Linked DNA regions of Homo sapiens: region 2 is linked to region 1. The links come from fine-mapping of genetic effects on plasma protein levels. Region 1 holds a variant in brackets. A gene starts in the other region. All regions are shown on their forward strands.

Region 1 (2,899 bases):
TGCAGGCAGCCCCACCCCTCTGCTTGGACCCTCGCTGGCCTCTTAGTCTCTCCCGTACCACCGCACTGACACTCCCACCCTGACTCCTCCTTGTCTCGGAGAATACACGACCAGCCAGGACCCCTCTCCAGCCACAGGCCTGGCCCTGCCCACACTGCCCTCTGTCATCCAGTGTAAGGGGCCCTGCCCTCACACACCGTTTCACACCCCTGTGCTCGCTCAAGTCCCCTCAACTCCTACTCTGCTTTTAACCATCCCCTCGGCTGTCACTGACTCCAGGAAGCCCTCTCAGGCCTCCCAGGCCCTGTATGCCCAGACATGGCTATGACACCCTTTGTCCTCCCTCCCTCCACCATAAGCCTTCAAGGGCAGGAGCTATGTTGTCTGTCAATTCTCAGGGCCTGGCTGTGTCTGGAACACAGAGGAGCTTGAAATCTGCCTGATGAAATGAACAGACTTCTGTCTCCAAATGACATTGGGAGGATACACAGGTCTCCCCCCATCCCATCTGTGTCCAGCTGTCCAGTGAGGCCCCGCATCCAGAGGTGGGGTGAGCATGCCCCCAGTGCCTTCTGGCCCGGGCTCTGCTGTCCTGTCTTTGAGCTCTCTCTCAGTCCCCGTCCCAGGACAGCTGTGAGGTCGGGAGGAGGCTATGGAGCCAGGCAGACCACCTCCCGGCTGTATGGTCTGGGCAAGACCCCCACTGGCCTCTCTGGTCTGAGGACTTGAGGCAGGCAAGGCCTGGCCGGGCACTCCCTTCCACTGGCCAGTGCCCTTCATTCATGGCACGCACCAGCCATGAGAAGAACTCTCGGGCGCAGGTGTGGACAAGCAGAAGCGGCTTGCAGGGCCACACAAGGGAGGGGTAGGAACCCTCACGAGGGGAAAGGCCTGGCTTGGGGTTTACAGAAAGGGCCTCCCCCATCATGTCGTTTCTTTAAATGTGAATGTAGCTGGCTTCAAACAAAATCTCAGTGGGCGCTGCCAGCTCGGGTTCACTCTGCCAGAAAAGACTAAATGTTTTTTGAAGATCCTGAGGAATGGAGGAGGAAAGCCCAATCTACTTTACATGTTTAATTTGCAGCAAAGTCACCGAGAAGCACGCCGAATCTACCCCAAATGACATCAAATAGTTCCAAAGGTCCACCCGCCCACTCAGCTCTCCAATGGACGTGACTGCAGACACAGGTGCAGTTCGTAGCCCTCGAGCAGGCTGCGTTGTTGGTGGGGGTGGGTCGGCTAAGCGCATACTTTGGTAAGTCTGCAAAATCCCCACCCCACCTCCCCAGGCCAGCCCAGCCAAACCCTTCCACACGGGAACAGCTGATAAGCAGCCACAGAATGTCTCAATTCAAGGCCTCAGTGATGAATGGACTGCAGATGAGGCTTCTGACTTTGCAAAAAAAAAC[T/C]GTACTTTATCACTCCCAAAGCCTGCCCTTGGCTGGAAACAGATGTTCCAAACCCCGTCCGCTCCGCAGCTGCAGCGTGCCTGCTTCCGGAGCCGCTTGTCTGTCTTCAGGGCCGGCATCTGCCGAGGGCCTTGGCTTTCTGGGAAGAGTCTATGTCTAAAAGTCATGGTCGTCCGAGTTCAGTTATATAATGTTATTGATCCCGGTTGGTTTGCTTAAGAAAAACACAACTAATTAGACTCTATAAAAACCTACACACCAAATTAATTCTGTATTGCTCTAGTGACTTCCGCCTGAAAAAAACGTTATAAATATAGATGACCACTGGACCTATATTTAGCCAGCACTGGATTACCTGGTATTTATAATTAAGGAAGTCCAGAAAGAGAGAGAGAGAATGGACATTTTGTTGTTATTTCTTAAAGCATTTTTTAAAAACTGCTTCCCATTTCAGTCACATATACACATAGCAACATTCTGTTATTGCAATAATTACAATCCTGACCCAAGTTAAGATGATTGCACAATTTCCCAGTCTCCTAAAATTACTTTCTTCAACACATATCCACCCAAACTATGCAATTAAGCTGTTCAACATCCTAAAAATTCCTGAGAAATCATTAATTCTTACTTAGCAAACTTCATTTTTCTCTTCCCTTAAGTCGCCAAACCAAATGGTCCGGCTTCGGATGAGAACGTTTAATTTCTACATGTGGTCTCGGCCTATATTTTCAAGGTCTACAAAAAGCTACCTGAAAAAACTACAATCCTGACTTTGAAGATCTCCATTTTAAATCATTTCCTGGTTGCAGGTTTCTTTACGGCTGTCTGGAATTAGTTGTTTTACCGGATTCCTAAATCCAATGCCTCTTGAGTATTCATTTTTGTTTTGTTTTGTTTTAATTTTAAGATAAGCTGTAAAACTCTTCTTTTTCCTGAAAAATTCCAGTCTAAAGTCATCATATGGGGAAGAACATGGTGTGTGTGGGGTGGGAAGATCCGGGGTGGCCCAGAACAAGGCACTGCTGCAACTCAGAAGGTGAGGAGGGCGCTCACATGGGGGAACGTGGAATCGAGCCCGTGGGGCTACGGGTGGGAACAGGCTACTCCAGATGTCAGTCCAGGCAGATAACCAGGCTGCCCACTCAGGGAAAGTGAAGACACAGGACATGGCAGATTGGTTACCCACAGAGCACAGATGGAACATGTTACTACATTAGGGGCCCTTACAACTGATAAAGACCGGTGGAATTCCCCGGTGTCCATGGCTGTGCTGCACGGCTCTGCAGACACAGTCCTTGTTTATGCAAAGGACACACTGGAGCACTGGGGCTGGCGGGGCCGGGGTCACCAGGTTCTCTGCGCTGGGTCAGTTGAGCTTTGCCCTGTGCATTCAATTTTTCTGTAAGTTTGTGATTGTTTCAAAAAATTGTAAAAGAAATTTTTAATTGTAATAAAACAAGGTAACCAGACCTTTTAGCCCCTTTCCC
Region 2 (2,826 bases), not on the chromosome of region 1:
AATTGCTTTTTAATAAACCATGTAAGGTGACATTCACAGGGTCAGGGACTAGGACAGGAATGTCTTTTTGGGGAGGAAGGCTGTGTTTCAGCCTGCCATGGCTACCATCCTTCCAAATCCACGAATGATGGGAGAAAGAGACCTTTCCACCAGCCCGTGTTAGAAGAGTCCCAACTCTGAGTGACCCTGTCTAGGCCACTGCAGAGCCCTGAGCCAGTGGGGAAGTGGGGCTTTGGGAAGGAGTGGGAGTAAGGAGGGGGCCTGTCACTTGGTTGGAGTTGGGGAGGGAGCTACCATTCCCCCAAAATAGGCAGAGCCGGGTGGCTGCTGGTGAGACAGAAACCACACAGCTCCATTAAATGGCATGTGGGGAAACATGATAACATAAGGGAGTAATGCAGGAAAGTGTGTTTGGGCTGGGCGTGGTGGCTCACGCCTGTAATCCCAGCACTTTGGGAGGCCAAGGTGGGCGGATTGCTTGAGCTCAGGAGTTGGAGACCAGCCTGGGCAACGTGGGGAAACCCTGTCTCTACAAAACATACAAAAATGAGCTGGGCATGGTGGCTGAAACCTGTAGTCCCAGCCACTTAGGAGGCTGAGGCAGGAGAATGGCTTGAGCCTGGGATATGGTGGTTGCAGTGAGCCAAGACTGCACCACTGCACTCCAGCCTGGGCGGCAGAGGCAGAGGGAGACCCTGTCTCAAAACAAAAAGAAAAAGAAAAACAAACAAACAAAAACCTTTGCTGGGAAGCAGGAGAGTTTCCTGGAAAGGAAGGCGGTAGGTTTACACCTTTCCTGGGTGCTCAAATTCAAAGAGATACTGTATTTCTGGTTTTCATCTCTTTGCAATTCATTTACCTTTTTTTTTTCCTCTCTGCAGAACACAAATCCGGTCAAGTTTTGGGTTGTCATGAGGGAGAACTGACATAGCGCTGGGCGGTGAGTTCAGCCAGGTTATCTCTGCGAGGACACCGGTCGGCGGCGGACAGCAGCACGCGGCGTCCAGGACCCGGCCTTCCTAGAGCTTAGGTCACTGTAGCCTCCAGGGGCGCTCCGAGTCCATCTGGAGGGCCGCGAGGCTTCCAGGCTGGAAGGAGGAATAGGGAGAAGGAGGAATAGGGAGACCTGGGGCAGTGTTACAATTACAGAAAAGGGAGAGGCGAGGTCCGCTGAGTCCTTGGCCTGGGCAACAAGGCACACTGAAAACTGGGTTCCTTTTCGACCCGCATCGTGCGCGCCCTAGAAATGACAGCCAGACGGAGCAGGGTCTAAGGACGCTGAAAACCCCTGACGTGGGCGCGCCGGGTGCGGGTAGGGACGTGGAAGGACTGGGCTAGCCACAGGAACTACAGCGCTGCGGACCGGGTGAGGGGTCCCGGCCCGAGTCCCCACTTGGGGCGCAGAGGTGTTTCTGTAAGGGGACAAAGGGCACTCCTCGGCGCGATGGGCGACTTCCCCAGCCAGAAAATGAGAGGGTTAGACGAGGGGAGGAACTTCCTCAGCCACTTGGCCCGGCACAGCGACCGCCCCAAGTTCAGAACCGCTAAGTCAGTCCGGGGCGCTCCGGCCCCTTCGTCCCGCGCCCCGCCCGCCTCCAGCCCGGGCCCCGCCGCCCCCGTCGCCCCTGTCGCCCGGGTCGCCCCCGCCGGCCCTGGCCCCGGCCCCGCACACCGGCAGGGGGCGCCCGAGCGCAGCTAAAAGGCTCGGCGGGAGGTCGGCGGCCTCAGTGGCGGAGCGCGGCTGCCGGTGTGCGGCCGGGAGCGATCGCCGCGGGGCAGGGGCGCGGCGGGCACCGCGCAGAGCGCGCAGAACAGACGGACGGCGGCGGGGACCCGACGGCGGCGCCTCGGCACTCCCCAGACTCCGGCCAGCGCCCCCCTGCCAGCCGCAAGCACCCAGCCCCGGCCCACCCCGGGCTCTCGATGGCCCCCGAGGCCGGGGCGACCCTGCGCGCGCCGCGCCGGCTGTCCTGGGCGGCGCTGCTGCTCTTGGCCGCGCTGCTCCCCGTCGCCTCCTCGGCGGCGGCCTCAGGTACGCGCCGCGCCCGGGCCCCCGGCGCTCCTCAGCTCCCCGCGCACCCTCCTGCGCTCGGGCCCCGTCGTCCCGCTCAGTGCTGGCTACGGGTCGTGTCACTAGCCTGTGCGTCCTCGTCACTCGCGGGTCGGGGCACTTGGCGCCCTGTGTGGGTGGCGGGAGCGGGGACGCCTCGGTGCCCGGGGACCGCAGCGCGCTGGCGTTTAACTTTGCCGTCGCCCGCCTTGGAGTCGGGAGGCTCCAGCCGTCTAAGTGTCCCGGGAGATTCAGGCACAGCGGGGAAAAAAGGAAAAGAAAGGCGACTTTCAGCGTGCGGACTGGGGTAATGCCTTTCTTTGCCCAGAATTTCTCGGGAGCGTAGGTGGTCATCCTACTTTCTCCGCGTTCACCTCTCGCGAGGCAGGATGACGGGCGCACTCGGGAGACCGGAGGGAGGCAGAGCAGGGCTGTTCTAGAAGGTCGTGGGGGAAAGGCTGCGAGCTGCCGCAGGGCGTCGGGTGCCTCTGCGCTCCAGAGGAGAAGCGCTCCAGTGCCAGCTCGGCTCCAGGCGGCAGGAGGCCCGCGCGCCCGGGGGGAACGTTCAAGCTGGGAGAAAATGTTTGTCTTGAGAGGAGGGAGAGGGAAATGAGAAAGCTGATTCCAGAGAAACTCGCCCTTCCCCAATGGCTGAGGCTGCAGCCAGGATGGATGCTTCCTTTGAGAGCAATGCTTTTCAGAAAATGCTAGCGCGCTCCTGTCAGATTTCTTGCAAGCTTCCTGCAGAGAGAGACAAGTTTGTGGCGAGGTTTTCA

Direction of the effects. Alleles are on the strand shown, and positions count from the first base shown. The strength of an association depends on the size of the effect and on how common the allele is.
For the plasma level of the protein whose gene starts at base 1,727 in region 2, T is the low allele of the variant in region 1 and C is the other (moderate association).

Evidence for each region. PIP is the chance, under the fine-mapping model, that this variant and not a neighbour inherited with it causes the effect. The UK Biobank Pharma Proteomics Project read protein levels with antibody pairs (Olink). The fine-mapping took linkage between variants from a reference panel, not from the people measured, so its PIPs are less certain.
Region 2: it holds the start of FNDC1, and the variant in region 1 is fine-mapped to the plasma level of the FNDC1 protein (UK Biobank, PIP 0.96).

Annotation. Positions count from the first base shown.
Region 1 is chr15:101,450,159-101,453,057 of GRCh38, forward strand. The region is part of intron 1 of PCSK6 (proprotein convertase subtilisin/kexin type 6); the gene reads right to left. Among named protein-coding and RNA genes, the nearest start is that of PCSK6, 38 kb to the right of the region's middle. RefSeq lists enhancers at 856-1,589, 2,606-2,899. The variant T/C (reference allele first, on the strand shown) is at 1,410.
Region 2 is chr6:159,167,674-159,170,499 of GRCh38, forward strand. It overlaps FNDC1 (fibronectin type III domain containing 1), which reads left to right and starts at 1,727. Exons shown (of 23, transcript NM_032532.3): 1 at 1,727-2,032. The coding sequence starts at 1,924. It overlaps FNDC1-AS1 (FNDC1 antisense RNA 1), which reads right to left and starts at 2,334. Exons shown (of 4, transcript NR_121668.1): 1 at 2,139-2,334; 2 at 860-1,088. RefSeq lists a silencer at 1,606-1,775 and an enhancer at 2,582-2,826.